Regions from separate parts of the Homo sapiens genome. Here region 2 is linked to region 1. A link means that fine-mapping ties the variant in region 1 to the expression of a gene that starts in the linked region. Tissue or cell type: T cells. Region 1 holds a variant in brackets; the other region holds the start of a gene. All regions are shown on one strand. Distances are between the middles of the regions.

Region 1 (6,866 bases):
CTGTATTTTTTTGTTTGTTTGTTTTTTTTCAGTAGAGATGGGGTTTCACCATGTTATCCAGGCTGGTCTTGAACTCCTGACCTCAGGTGATCTGCCCACCTCGGCCTCCCAAAGTGCTGGGATTACAGGCGTGAGCCACCGTACCTGACCCCAACTTTTTTTTTTAATCAAGTGAGTGAGAAGAGGATTCATCTTTTCTTCAAGCCTCAGAAGTCCAGGTGATGATTCTGGTTAGAAAGAGCTGTCCGTGGTCGGGTGCGGTGGCTCACGCCTGTAATCCCAGCACTTGGGGAGGCCGAGGCAGGTGGATCATGAGGTCAGGAGTTCAAGACCAGCCTGGCCAAGAAGGTGAAACCCCGTCTCTCCTAAAAATATGAAAAGTAGCCAGGCGTGGTGGCGGGCACCTGTAATCCCAGCTTCTGGGGAGGCTGAGGGAGATAATTGCTTGAGCTCAGGAAGCGGAGTTTGCAGTGAGCCGAGATCGCGCCACTGCATTCCAACCTGGGTGACAGAGCGAGACTCTGTCTCAAAAAAAAAAAAAAGAAAGAAAGAAAAAAAAAAAGAAAGAAAGAGCTGTCCGGAGTTAAATTCAGACCAGAGGCTGGGCGCGGTGTCTCGTGCCTGTAATCCCAGCAACTTGGGAGGCCGAGGCGGGCGGATCACAAGGTCAGGGGATCGAGACCATCCTGGCTAACACAGGGAAACCCCGTCTCTACTAAAAATACAAAAAATTAGCCGGGCGTGGTGGCTGGTGCCTGTAGTCCCAGCTACTCGGGAGGCTGAGGTAGGAGAATGGCATGAACCCAGGAGGCAGAGCTTGCAGTGAGCCGAGATCGCGCCACTGCACTCCAGCCTGGGCGACAGAGCAAGACCCCGTCTCAAAAACAAACAAACAAACAAAAAAAAAACCAAAAAAACACACAAAAACAAATCCAGACCAGCAGTGATTTTCCCTAAAATGAGAATCCTGAGATAGGAGCTTCCGTACTCATCACAATTGGAGTCAACTTTCACGCAGACCTCAAGGTGTCCAAGTACTTTCCATATAAGTGTTGCTGCTAAAAATAAAATAATAATAATACAAACTCCAGGCCTCTTGGATTCTAAAAATGGGAGTTGTGTATCTCTTTTTTCTCCAAATTTAGCCTGGCCTCTCATGCTTGAGTTGTCTACAGCAGCTTCCATGAGTTCCCAGTGTGGTTGAAATCATAAATATGCCTTCTCTTTCATTTCCCTTTTTCACATCCCCAAACCCACGTGGTGGTTCAGCTGGGGAGCTATATTTCCTTGGGGAGGAAAGTAGCACAGTGGGTGTCATACCCAGGGGAGATTAACTTTCGGGTCCTGTAGTTGCCCCTACCAGGGTGAGAACCTGGTGCTCATAGAAACCTGCTCAGAAAATCGCTTTCTTGCTTTTGTTCCTTCCTCCACACAATGGCCACAGTTACTGGTGGAGACAAAATGTCTGGAGTGGACTGGAGTCCAAGAAAAGGTACATCGGGCATTTCCTCGCCTAGGAAGTCACTGGCACAGAAGTTCAGAAATGAGCGAGATTTTGAAAACAAGAATAGGCCGGGTGCGGTGTCTCACGCCTGGAATCCCAGCACTTTGGGAGGCCGAGGCAGGCACATCCTCTGAGGTCAGGAGTTCAAGACCAGCCTGGTCAACATGGGAAAACCCTGTCTCTACCAAAAATAAAAAAAAATTAGCCGGGCGTGATGGTGCAGGGCTGTAATCCCAGCTACTCTAGAGGCTGAGATGGCAGATCTCTTGAACCCTGGAGGTGGAGGCTGCAGTGAGCCGAGATCGCGCCACTGCACTCCAGCCTGGTAGACAGAGCAAGACTCCGTCTCAAATAAATAAATAAATAAATAAATAATTAAAACATAAAAAAATAAAAATTTTCTCGGGGAGCTGACTATGAGAAGGCAGAAATATGTTAATATCTCCAGGTGTCTGTCTGGGGTGTGGTGGGTGGGAAAAAGGCGGAAGTGGTTTCCTGTAATGAATTTGCTCTGTAGGAAGGAGCCATGTTTTTTGGCGCTGGGGATGTTAACTTAGTCCTGGTCATCAACAACATGAACATCAGGCAGAGATACTTGTGTCTTACTTGGAGGAAGATTCAGACCCGGAGAAGGATTTTGATCAGGGAAGAGTCAGCTACAGATAAGGTTGGGGCTATGAGAATAATAGATGTCAGCCTGGAGTGAGGGTTTGGAGAAGAGGACCAGGAGGAGGCTGATGTGGTGGCACAGACAGGCTGTCTTCAGTCTCCAGTGAGCTTGCACTGTGGGAATGGACCCGGGGACGTGGGTGAGGAGGGCTCAAGGGTACAACTGCTTGGATTTGTTCACTGTATGTGAAACAAAAGTGAGTGAGCAACTAGGGTCTGTTTCACTCTCTGCCTTAGTTTACTGGAGGAACGAATGGTGTCATCCCAGGATGAATGATCCCGGGGAAGAACCAGGCTAGGGAGATATTTATAAGGCTGTTCACGGAGTGCAGAGGAAGCACTGTCTCCCTCCTGGCCCTGCTGTCTAGTTTTGTTTCTCCCAAGCACTTCTTCCCTCCGACTTTCTTAATTCTATAAGTAGCAGCACCAGAACGCGATCATGTCTGTTGCAGAGATGTGAATGGAGCTGGAGGTCATTATCCTTAGTAAACAAACACAGGAACAGAAAACCAAATACCACATGTTCTCACTTATAAGTGGGAACTCCATCAAATCTCCAAGTCATTTACAACCTCTTCTTCCCCTGTCCATAACTCTTCATTTGATACCGTGAATTCTGTCTCCATGCTTTGGGCCAAAGCATTCACTGGAAGAAATTCCCAAGCTTTGGTTTAAGGCATGAGGGTTCATACTTACTGTCAGTTGACCTTCAGCAGGTGACATCCTCCCCTGCCCCATCCATTTTCCTCGTTGTAGGAAGATGGTAATTAACCCTCCCGTCAAGTTTTTTTGTTTTGTTTTTTG[T/G]TTTTTTTTTTCCTGACAGCGTCTCATGCTGTCACCCAGGCTGGAGTGCAATGGCACGATCTCTGCTCACTGCAACCTTGACTTCTTGGGTTCAAGCGATTCTCCTGCCTCAGCCTCCTGGGTAGCTGGGATTACAGGCATGCACCACTGCCAAGCGTGTCCATGTGAAGAGACCAGCAAACAGGCTTTGTATGAGCAATAAAGCTTTTAATTCACCTGGGTGCAGGTGGACTGAGTCTGAGAAAGGAGTCAGCGAAGGGAGATGGGGAAGGGGTTGCTTTATAGGAGTTGGGTAGGTGATGGAAAATTACGGTAAAAGGTGGTCATCTATTGTTGGCAGAGGAGGAGGTCACAAGGTACCTGGTGGGGACATCGTAAGACTTATTATCCAGAAGAAGAATGTCACAAAGTTGATTGATCGGTTAAGGTGGGGCAGGGACAAGTCACAATGGTGGAATGTCGTAATGTTGGTTAATCAGTTAAGGCAGGAACTGGCTGTTTTACTTCTTTTGTGGTTTTTCGGCTGCCCCAGACTTCTTGGCTCCTTCAGGCCATCTGGGTGTATATGTGCAGGTCACAGGGGTTACAATAGCTGAGCTTCAGCTCAGAGGCCTGACAACCACCACACTGGCCAATTTTCTTTTTTTTTAAATTTTTAGTAGAGACAGGGTTTCACCATGTTGGCCAGGCTGGTCTTGGACTCCTGACTTCAGGTGATCTGCTCGCCTTGGCCTCCCAAAGTGCTGGGATTACAGGCGTGAGCCACCATGCCTGACCTAAACCTTTAAAAGTGGATACTTGTGTGAGAGAGAGAAACCATGCAGAAGAGATTAAATAAAATTAGACGGATATAATTGTGTCTTGTTTCTTGTTTTGGTTTAGAAATATAAGTGTATTTTCTTGAATAGATATGATGCAAAAATATTTTTAAATATAACTCATAAACTTAAAGATAAAACCTAAAGAAAAAGAAAATGCGGTAAAACAGGTGGGAGGGGAAGCAGGAAAGGCAGGCACACTCGTGTAACTATGATTGAAAGAAAATCTGTATACAAGTGGACCTGCACAGTTCAAACCTGTGGAGTTCAAAGCTCAACTGTATGTTACTGCAAATGATTATAAGTGCTGTTATAGAAACATTCAAAGACCAGAAAAGGACCACAATGGCTGACCACACATAGCCAGGAAGAGCTTCTCCCACCGAGAGACCAGGCCATCAAGAAGACCAGAATGCTCTGGGCAGATCTTCTGAAAGAGGGCGCTGAGGGTGGATGGAGAGAGGACACAGATCCTGAGGATGGATGGAGGGAGGACACAGATCCTGAGGATGCATGGAGGGAGGACACAGATCCTGAGGATGGATGGAGGGAGGAAACAGATCCTGAGGGTGGATGGATGGATGGAGGACACAGATCCTGAGGGTGGATGGATGGAGGGAGGACACAGATCCTGAGGGTGGATGGAGGGAGGACACAGATCCTGAGGATGGATGAAGGGAGGACACAGATCCTGAGGGTGGATGGAGGGAGGACACAGATCCTGAGGATGCGTGGAGGGAGGACACAGATCCTGAGGATGGATGGAGGGAGGACGTAGATCCTGAGGGTGGATGGAGGGAGGACGCAGATCCTGAGGGTGGATGGATGGAGGACGCAGATCCTGAGGATGGATGGAGGGAGGATGCAGATCCTGAGGGTGGACGGATGGAGGGAGGACACAGATCCTGAGGATGGATGGAGGGAGGACACAGATCCTGAGGATGGATGGAGGGAGGACGCAGATCCTGAGGATGGATGGAGGGAGGACGCAGATCCTGAGGGTGGATGGAGGGAGGACGCAGATCCTGAGGATGGATGGAGGGAGGACGCAGATCCTGAGGATGGATGGAGGGAGGACACAGATCCTGAGGATGCATGGAGGGAGGACACAGATCCTGAGGGTGGATGGAGGGAGGACACAGATCCTGAGGATGGATGGAGGGAGGACACAGATCCTGAGGATGCATGGAGGGAGCACACAGACCCTGAGGGTGGATGGATGGAGGACGCAGATCCTGAGGATGGATGGAGGGAGGACACAGATCCTGAGGATGCATGGAGGGAGGACACCACGCCCGGCTAATTTTTGTCTTTTTAATAGAGATGGGGTTTCACCATGTTGGCCAGGCTGGTCTCAAACTCCTGACCTCGTGATCCGCCCGCCTCAGTCTCCCAAAGTGCTGGGATTACAGGCGTGAGCCACCGCGCCTGGCCGGCTTTCTTAGTCATGTTTAATTTAACGAAAATTTTATAATGATCTGAAATGTAAATGGTTTTTAAAGAATTCAAATTAGGATTCATCAAAAATAGGACTGTCTTTATTGTTGAAAAACATTGTATTTCTTTAATAATGAACAACTTATTAAGTTATGATGTGATTTAACTGGTATGAAAATTTGGGAAATTAGAATCTTGGTAAAGTACAGATTAGTTAAAAGAAAAAGATGCTTTAGAAAAATCAAAGACATTTCCGAAAGAATGTACAATAATCAATAGCAGTTTGGCCCCAGTGTTATAGAGGATGGGGAGAAGGTGGAAGAATGAGAAAATAACACGCATTTCACGTAGTATATGTGCACAAATCTTTTTCTTTTGTTGCGAAGAAAATGTTTTATCACAACAAATGTAATAAATTTAGCAACTTTGTTCTGGAGATCAATCAATAAATCCAAATAGGAGAAGGAGGAGGGGTCTGTAAAAGCAGAAAGCAATTTCAGAAATGAATATATATAGTGTACTAAATAAATTGAGCTGGATGGTAAATAAAGGCAACAAGAAAATATCTGTGAATCCTAGACCAGCTGTGATGATGGCTCTGTATGCCCTTAAATAACGGCAATAATTCATGAAAAAATAAAGACCTTGTCCTTTCTTTATCAAAGTGATTTATTATTTATTTATTTATTTATTTATTTATTTATTTATTTTTTAGAGACAGAGTCTCGCTCTGTCACACCCAGGCTGGAGTGCAGTGGCTCGATCTCAGCTCACTGCAAGCTCCACTTCCTGGGTTCACGCCATTCTCCTGCCTCAGCCTCCCGAGTAGCTGGGACTACAGGCACCTGCCACCACGCCCGGCTAATTTTTTTGTATTCTTAGTATAGACGGGGTTTCACCGTGTTAGCCAGGATGGTCTCGATCTCCTGACCTCGTGATCCGCCCGCCTCAGCCTGCCAAAGTGCTGGGATTACAGGCGTGAGCCACTGCGCCCGGCCCAAAGTGATTTTTATGGAGGTACAATTTAGGACTAAATGAGGCACATTTTACTTCTTGGAACGGCAACAGGAAAATTCCCATCCCGCAGCTCTCACAACTCAGATCTTAGCAATTGGAACAGAACAGGTTGTCACTGCTGAAGGACCAAGCAGAACAACGGTTTCAGGAAGCTTTAGCTCTAAATCCCAGTAGATGTAGAGCAGGTGCAGAGCTCTGGGGACTCTCAAAGCACTTTTAACTCTGGTTAAGTGTCAGAATTGCATTTAGACATCAACACATTTATATTCCTTGATTCTTTCTTCTCCCTAAGCCTTAAACATATAGTCACCTTTTATCAAAAAGATATTTTATTTGTCTAAATGGAAGATATAGTTTACTTTCTTCACACAGATGCCAGAAATTTTCTATGAACGTAAAATCTTTGGTGCAATCAAGTGCATACTGCTTCCCAGATCCTACAAGAAAGGAGATTAAGGTGTAGAATTTTACACTCATCACAGAAAGTTTTCAGAGACTAACTGGCATCACCAACCAAAACACAACATGCTATCACCACAACTATTTTTAAATGTCTTAAGTAGTAGTTTCCATTGGACAGCAGGTGTGTAAGCAGGAGCCAAGAGTGAAACACGCTC
Region 2 (8,303 bases), 100 kb after region 1:
GGCACCACCAAATGCTGGCAGAAATGTGGAGCAACAGAAACCCTTCTTCATTGGTGCTGGCAATGCAGAATGGTACAGCTACTTTGGAGGACAGTGTGGTGGTCTCTCATAATCCTAAACATACTCTTAGAATATGAACCAGCAACACTGCTCCCCAGTATTTACACAGATGGGTTGAAAACTTCTGCCCACAAAGAAATCTGCACGTGCACGTTTATGGCAGCTTTCTTTATCACTGCCAAAAACTTGGAAGGAACCAAGATATCCTTCAATAAATGTCTTACTACATTCTGGTTGTTGTAACAAAATACCATACACTGCGTAGCTGAGGCAGGAGGATCACTTGAGCCTGGGAGGTTGAAGCTGCTGTGGGCTGAGACAGAGATCACATCATTGCACTCCAGCCTGGGTGACAGAATGAGAAACCCTGTCTCAAAAAAAAAAAAAAAGTACAGTTTTGGTTTTTGCTGTGACTGGGCTCCTGGAGTGAGAGCTCTGGATCCCAGCTGCAAGATGAGGAATCTGGAGCCGAGAGAAGGGAAACGAGTTTTCCAAGTCATACGGCTGGTTAAGTAAAAGAGCCGGGATTATGACTTAGGTTTCCTGCCCCCCAAGATTATTATTTTTTGAAACAGAGTTTCGCTCTGTCTCCCAGGCTGGAGTGCAATGGCATGATCTGGGCTCACTGCAACCTCCACCCCCAGGGTTCTAGCGATTCTCCTGCCTCAGCCTCATGAGTAACTGGGATTACAGGCATGCGCCACCATGCCCGGCTAATTTTTCTGTATTTTTAGTAGAGACGGGGTTTCGCCATGTTGGCCAGGCTGGTCTTGAACTCCTGACCTCAGGTGATCCACACGCCTCGGCCTCCCAAAGTGCTAGGATCACACGCATGAGCCACCGCGCCTGGCCTACCCAAGATTATTAAAATAAGTTTTCAGAAGCAACCCCCTACTGGCCAGGCGCAGTGGCTCATGCCTGTAATCCCGGCACTTTGGGAGGCAGAGGCGGGCGGGTCACCTGAGGTCCGGAATTCCAGATACTGTGAAACCCTGTCTTCACTAAAAATACAAAAATTAGCTGGGTGTGGTGGTGCACGCCTGTAAAGAGAATTGCTTGAACCTGGGAGGCAAAGGTTGCAGTGAGCTGAGATCGTGCTACTGCACTCCAGCCTGGGCGACAGAGCCGTCTCAAAAAATAATAATAATAATAGATTTTTTAAGAAAAGCAATCCCCTAGTGACTTCTTAGAGCACATCATCAGACAGTTGGGGTAAAATTCTGAAGTGGATTAAGGGAGGGGTGCTGGTTTGCCTGGATGGCTACATGAACATAGCCCTGGAACCAACCAAATATGTAACTGGACAACAGAAAAATAAGTACAGGGTGCATTAATCAGAGGCAACAATGTTTTGTACTTAAGTACACAGAAGACACGATGTGAAGACACCAAGAGAACAGTACTTTTCATGGTTAGACACATTTCTTAGGTATTTTTTCTACTTTGGGATTCTTTTGTGATATAATTTGTCCTGTTTACATAATTTTTTTCCCTGACATGTAAGATAAATGTATCTAATTGTGGGCTTACTTGTAAAGAGTTTTCACATTTAAGTTCCAGTCATTTCATTTTATCGCTGTATCTGTGTACAGAATGCTAAAGAATAAGACATAAAAAATAAAAGTACAGTTATAAACACCTCTTTTAAAAGGCAGAGACTGTTCGCTTGGGCAAAAAAAAGCAAGATCCAACTACATGCTATCTACAAGAAACCCACCCTAAATACAACAGGTAAAAGGAAGCTAAATGGAACGTGGGTCCTGGCTTGTACCCTGGCATGTAAAGAAAACATTGGAGGAAAAGGTGGTGAAATCCCAGTAAAGTCTGGGTTTTAGTTACAGTAATGCATCATGTCAGTATCTACAACAAACCACTTTTGTTGGTGCTTGTGATGACAGCATCAGAAGAAAGTGGGCATAAAACATGGTGGACTGCTTATGATCTTTGCAACTTTTCTTTTTTTTTTTTTTGAGACAAGAATTTCACTCTTGTTGCCCAGGCTGGAGTGCAATGGTGTAACCTCGGCTCACTGCAACCTTGGCCTCCTGGGTTCAAGCGATTCTCCTGCCTCAGCCTCCCGAGTAGCCGGGATTACAGGTGCACGCGCCACCACGCCCAGCTAATTTCTGTATTTTTAGTAGAGACGGGACTTCACCATGTTGGCCAGGCTGATCTTGAACTCCTGACCCCAGGTGATCCACCCATCTCGGCCTCCCAAAGTGTTGGGATTACAGGCGTGAGCCAGCGCGCCCGGTCTTTGCAACGTTTTGAATAAATCCAAAATTATTCCAGAACAAAAAGCTTAGTACCAAAAAGAAAACAAAAACAAAAACAAAACAAACCCCCCCCCCCCCACAGAGTAAAATAACGGAAAAAGATCTACTATGCTAGCACTAACAAAATAATACGTAGTTATGAAAATGGTATGTATTTTTCAAGCTAGACGTTCATAATGGTAGAACATGAGGAGGAAAACTGCCTCTTAAATCCCACCACTTACTGTGACACAGTGACCGGTCCCTGCAGCGGACTGGATAGTTGTATCAGAGTCCTGGACGGAAACAGATGGCACTCAAAAGGTGGCGCGCAGTTCAGAGAAATGCCTATGTACGGATTTGGTCCAATGCCTCAGCCTGACCTCAGGGACCTTCGGGGGTCTGCTCCGCGCCCACCCTTACACATCTGTGACCCCACACACTTCCACCCCAGCGCCACTGCCAACAGCTACACCCATCCCCCTCCAACCGCGTCAGCTTCCAGCCTCGGTCCATCTGAACTCGCCGTGCCCCCTCCCCTGCGCCCTTCCAGATTCATTTGCTAGGGAAGCCCGCTCTTCCGGGTGGAGCTGTTCCTCATCCCCTTTCTTTATCATTCTCTCCCCAGGGCTTCCACATCACCGTGCTGTGGACAATCCCGGAACTCCTGTCACGCCAGTTTACATTTAGGAACAGTAATGGCTCCCACTGACTCAGTCAAAACAAGGCTGCGGCCGGGCACGGTGGCTCACGCCCGTAATCCCAGCACTTTGGGAAGCCGAGACGGAGGGATCACGAGGTCAGGAGTTCGAGAACAGCCTGGCCGACATGGTGAAACCCCGTCTTTACTAAAAACACAAAAATTAGCCGGGCATAGTGGCGCGCGCCTGTAATCCCAGCTACTCCGGAGGCTGAGGCAGAATTGTTTGAACCCAGGAGGCGGAGGTTGCAGTGAGCAGAGATCACGCCACTGTACTCTATCGTGGGCGACGACAGAGCAAGAGCAAGACTCCGTCTCCGAGAACAACAACAACAGCAACAAGAAAACAACAATAAAAAAAATAAGGCTGCGTGGGAGGCAGAAAGAGCTAATGCGGCCACGCTTGTCTCCTCGGGGCCACCGTCCCCACCCAGACTTCCGGTCTGCCTTAAAATGTTCATGCGTAAGTGCGTGGGCAGGAAGGCGGGCTCAAGCGCAGCTCGTGGCGTTCATTGGCTGTGCAGGGCCGAGGGAGGCGGTGCAAGGCCGCCGCGTGACGTCAGGACGCCGCGGTCAGGACGTCGAAGCCAAAGAAGACCAGAGCCAGCCGGGTGGCACAGCGGTGTCGTGGCCGTGTTGCTGATCGCCTGGGTGGTTGTTGGCGTGTCCCTGCAGCGAAGGATCCTGGTTGGTAAGGGGAGCGGCAGGCGAGCAGGCGGGCGGGGATAGCATCTCCTTTTGGTCTTGCGCCCCGCGAGCCCCGAGGCCTTCTCGGCCGTCGCAGCAGCAGACGCCGCGCGCGAGCGTCGACAGGGTGTGGCGGCGCAGGGGCAGCCACTGCGCCTGCGCACCGGGCCTGGGGCCGCGCGTTCGGGCACTAGCGCGCGTGCGCCGTCGTCTTCTAATTTCCGTTCCTCTCCCTTGGAGTTCTCGGGGCCCCGGGGCGCCCCTCACTCGCCGTTGACCGGGTGTTGCCCCGGGCGACGGGCGGCTCCTGCGCGTCTTTCTGGGGCGTGGTGCGCAGGCGCGGCCTGGGCAGTGGCTCCGTGGCTAGTCGTGGGGATCCGAGCGGCCTCCTCCACCCGGCGTCCTCCTTTGCCTTCGCCCAGCCTGCGGGACGGCCAGGTGCTCCCGGGACCTCAGGCCTCGCGTCTGATGCCTGTCTCTGTTCTTGAGACCCGTCCGGGAGTCCTCTGTCCAGCCCCCAACTCCTGACCTTACCTCTAATCTCCCTTCTGCCCTGGGGCTCCTCTTCCTGTGTCCCCGCCACGATCCCTCGTCTCCACCCACGCCCTGTGTCCTGTTTAAGTTAAGCCTTTGCGTTTCTAGGGCTTTTCCCCAGCTCCAGACTCCCGTTCCTATCCCGTCAACTCGTGGGAATTCCGGTTCTCCTGCGGGATTAATTATCCTACTTATCAGTTACTCCCTCTCGGGAGTTTAGGCTCCTGAATCCTTGCTCCGGAGACACTCCACTTTTCTTCCAATTCTCTCTGTACCCCACTCTTAATTCGTTGAACATGTTTTGGGTCTTCTTTGGCATTCCCAAAGCTTTATGTCCAGACACCCAACCACGGTGATCCCTTTTCTCTCCCAGCCCTACCCCTGCTTCCGGGAACCTCCCGTGGAAGCAGGCAGGGGTAGTCCCACTGAGGACTCCCACGTAGGTCTCTTTACTGCCCTTCGGAGACCTTTTTGAAATCAGTCTGTCAGTGCTAAGAACCCATTTCTTCACGTTGGGGTTCACGTTGGCATTCTCAGGAACGCTCAACGACCACTTGCTTCCAGGGTTAACTTCCGGAAAATCCCCTTTTCCTCTCAAAATTTTCTTCTCTTCTCCAATATTCTTCCAGCCCCCTCGATGCTCCCTGAAAGGCCTCCCTTTTCACAGAGTTCTCGGAAACCTTTCCACCCTCTCAGCCTTAAGGGTTCCCTCAGACTCTTCTCATTATAGCATCCATCCTCTTGGTTCAGGTTCCTTTCACAACCCGTACTCCCTAGCTTTTTTTTTTTTTTTTTTTTTGAGACAGAGTTTCGCTCTTGTTGCCCAGGCTGGAGAGCAATGGCGCAGTCTCAGCTTACCGCCCTCCGCCTCCCGTGTTCAAGCGATTCTCCTGCCTCGGCCTCCCTAGTAGCTGGGATTACAGGCATATGCCACCATGCCCAGCTAATTTGGTATTTTTAGTAGAGACGTGGTTACTCCATGTTGGTTAGGCTGGTCTCGAACTCCCGACCTCAGGTGACCTGCCCGCCTTGGCCTCTCAAAGTGCTGGGATTACAGGCGTGAGCCACCGCGCCTGGCCCCTAGAATTTTTTGTAGACCTTTTCCCCTTGATGGAGGCACCCCTACCCTCTGGACCTTTCATCACAGCCTCTCTTTGCTCACATGGGTTTCAGACCCTTCTCCTTCCCTTTGGGAAGTCTGCTCTGGCTTCCCTGTTTCCAAATCCTTCGTTTTCCACCTGGAGCTCTACAAAGGGGCCAGGGGCTTCCCCTCACTCCAGCCTTTCTAGTCCACACCCAGAACTCTTCAGATCCTTGACCCCAGTGGCTTTTCAGTCAGCCTCCCCTTTTCTGCCCGGCTTCTCTTGAGTCCATCTACTTTTCTTCCCCACTTTGTGACGTGTTTTTAGCTCCCCCTTAAGTCTCCCTAACTCATTCTTTTTCTCATAGACAGTGAAAAAGCAGTCTGGCTCCCGAGGTCCACCCCTTATACCCCAAGGTCCAGATGGCGGCCAACGTGGGTGATCAACGTAGCACAGATTGGTTAGTGAGGCGAGAGGGATGGAGGCCAGTCGGGAGGGAAAGAGGAAGCAAGACCCAGTGCTGTCCTCTGGGGTGGGACCTCCCGTGGCCTTAGGGGAGGTGATGCCACAATCCCTGTGGGTGGGGGTGGTGGTGAGGCAAACACAGAGGGAAGCATTTGGTTGTGGTGTGGAGAGGGGCAAGCTTTCACCTCTCTGAGCTTTCGTTTTTCACAGTACAGCGCTTGCTTTGCAGAATTGTGATGATTCATTCAAGCAAGTGTAATTAGGAGGCAGCTTCCCAACACTCAATACACAGTCATTTATTTGTTTTTCTGCTGATTCCTTATTTTTTCTCAAAATAGTGTGATAACCTGCCGACTGGGGTGATGTCAGACAGAATTCATTGATTCATGAAAGACATAGCCCTAGGAGGTGCCAAGGCCTGTGTTCAGTTCTGTGGGTTCTGTTAATTGTTTTGTTTGTTTGGTTTTAACAACTGCTGTGTGCCAGGCTCTGGGATAAGTACCTTAAGTAGGTGATCTCATTTATCCCTCCCAGCAGACTCTGAAGCAGAAACCCTTTATCAGCATAGTACAGATTAGAAAACTTAGGCTTAGACTGGTAGTAACAGTTAGATATGGGATCCAGGGGCTGGAATTTGCCTCCCAACTTGCCCACCTGTGTACAGTGGGGAGAACAGGTGTGACTTGATGTCCTCTCTCTCTGCAGGTCTTCTCAGTACAGCATGGTGGCTGGGGCAGGCCGAGAGAATGGCATGGAGACGCCGATGCACGAGAACCCGGAGTGGGAGAAGGCCCGTCAGGCCCTGGCCAGCATCAGCAAGTCAGGAGCTGCCGGCGGCTCTGCCAAGTCCAGCAGCAATGGGCCTGTGGCCAGTGCACAGGTGAGAAGGCCTCATGGGGCTGGGGTACCCTGAGCCAGAGGTTGTGGGAGGGACACAGTCTGGCGTCCTGTTGTATCATTCAGACGGGGTGCTCTGAGGGGAAACATGAAAAGACGTTCCAGGGTATCTAAATCTGAACGGGAAAAAGTTCTGTTTCCTTGAGGAAATTAGGGCGTGATGTGGTTCTGAAGAGGGAGGCCATGCCCATGCCCCTGGTCTCTAACGTGCGTGAGTCTCATGGTAGAGACAGTGGCTCACTTTGCAGATACATGGACCCAGTTTCATCCCTTGGCAATTGGCCACCAGTAAACAGGCTTGCCCTTTGGGGGCCGTGTGCCTGTGGATTTGGGCTGCTGACGGCACATGTGCCTCTGCTTCCACAGTACGTGTCCCAGGCAGAAGCCTCAGCTTTGCAGCAGCAGCAGTACTACCAGTGGTACCAGCAGTACAACTATGCCTACCCCTACAGCTACTACTATCCCATGGTGAGTGCCCAGCCAGTGGGGCGGGGCAGGGCGAGGTGGAGTCTGCTGGGTCGGGGCGAGGTGAAGTGGAGTCTGCCGGGATGGGGCTGGGTGGTGGATGGACTGGAGATCGCAGTGATAACTGCTCAGAAACCCTCTAACTTGCCCAGGAGGTAAATTCCTAGGTCCCCGCCATGAGCCACAAGGTCCTACATACCCGGTTCTGGTCCCTTCTCTCCTCATGCTCATTCTGCCATGGCCATCGAAGCAGAGACCTCCTTGATGCCCGCACCCGCCAGGCCCGCTCTCGCTTTGCCCTGGCTGCAGTGCTCCCTGTGTTGCCGCCTCTTGGAGGTCTCTGCTCAGATGCCGCCTTCAGAGAGCCTCTACCTGACACACTGATTGAAAGTAGCATTCCTGCCTCGCAGCCTGTCCCTCTCCCTTTCTTTGCCATCTTATTGTTTCATGATCCTTATTGCTGGATGTATTACATGTTGATGTCTCCAGCCGGACATGTAATTCCAGCACAAGCTTCATTACAGCATGGGTTTTCCTTTTGTTCTGTCGTAGTGCTTAGAAGAGTTGGCACTCAGTATCGTTGATTATATTCTTCCGAGAACTAGCTAAGTGAGATGTGGGATTGATAGAGGTTTTTCTTTTCCTAATATATGAGAGGATGTGGTGCATTAATATAGTGAAGAGAGAAAGGGGTGAGGGATTGGTAGAGGGTCATGGCTGGTGTAGTTCCTGAGCAGGCTGGGGAAGCGGAAAGGGTAGGCCTCCCACTAAACCCTCCCTCCCTGCGCCTTTGCAGAGCATGTACCAGAGCTATGGCTCCCCTTCCCAGTATGGGATGGCCGGCTCCTATGGCTCAGCCACACCCCAGCAGCCATCCGCACCCCAACACCAAGGGACTCTGAACCAGGTAACATCCTAGCCCAGCTCCCATACCCTGCTCAAGCAGAGGAAGTGTAGATTTTTGAATGAGCTGTCAATGAGGAATGGCTTGTACTCCTTAAGCTGCTTTTTTCCTTCCAAGCAACTCCTGATCTGAAAATGAGGAGGACAGAGCATAGTGTTTGAACCTGGGGTGGGTTTAAGGCTGAGCCAAGGCCAGGGCTGAGATGTTGAAAGACATCTCATCTTTTTCCCTAGCATGGTCACCCACAGGCGTGC

Evidence for each region. PIP is the estimated chance that this variant, and not a neighbour inherited with it, causes the effect.
Region 2: LENG8 starts here. The variant in region 1 is fine-mapped to the expression of LENG8 in T cells (TOPMed, PIP 0.96).

The regions. Positions count from the first base shown.
Region 1 is chr19:54,344,824-54,351,689 of GRCh38, forward strand. LAIR1 (leukocyte associated immunoglobulin like receptor 1) reads right to left here. Exons shown (of 10, transcript NM_002287.6): 10 at 6,561-6,866. Among named protein-coding and RNA genes, the nearest start is that of LILRA4, 9.1 kb to the left of the region's middle. The variant T/G (reference allele first, on the strand shown) is at 2,978.
Region 2 is chr19:54,445,605-54,453,907 of GRCh38, forward strand. LENG8 (leukocyte receptor cluster member 8) reads left to right here and starts at 3,595. Exons shown (of 16, transcript NM_052925.4): 1 at 3,595-3,706; 2 at 5,686-5,778; 3 at 6,489-6,663; 4 at 7,047-7,148; 5 at 7,942-8,052. The coding sequence starts at 5,741. It overlaps LENG8-AS1 (LENG8 antisense RNA 1), which reads right to left and starts at 3,434. Exons shown (of 3, transcript NR_126418.1): 1 at 2,958-3,434; 2 at 2,561-2,611. RefSeq lists an enhancer at 3,345-4,252.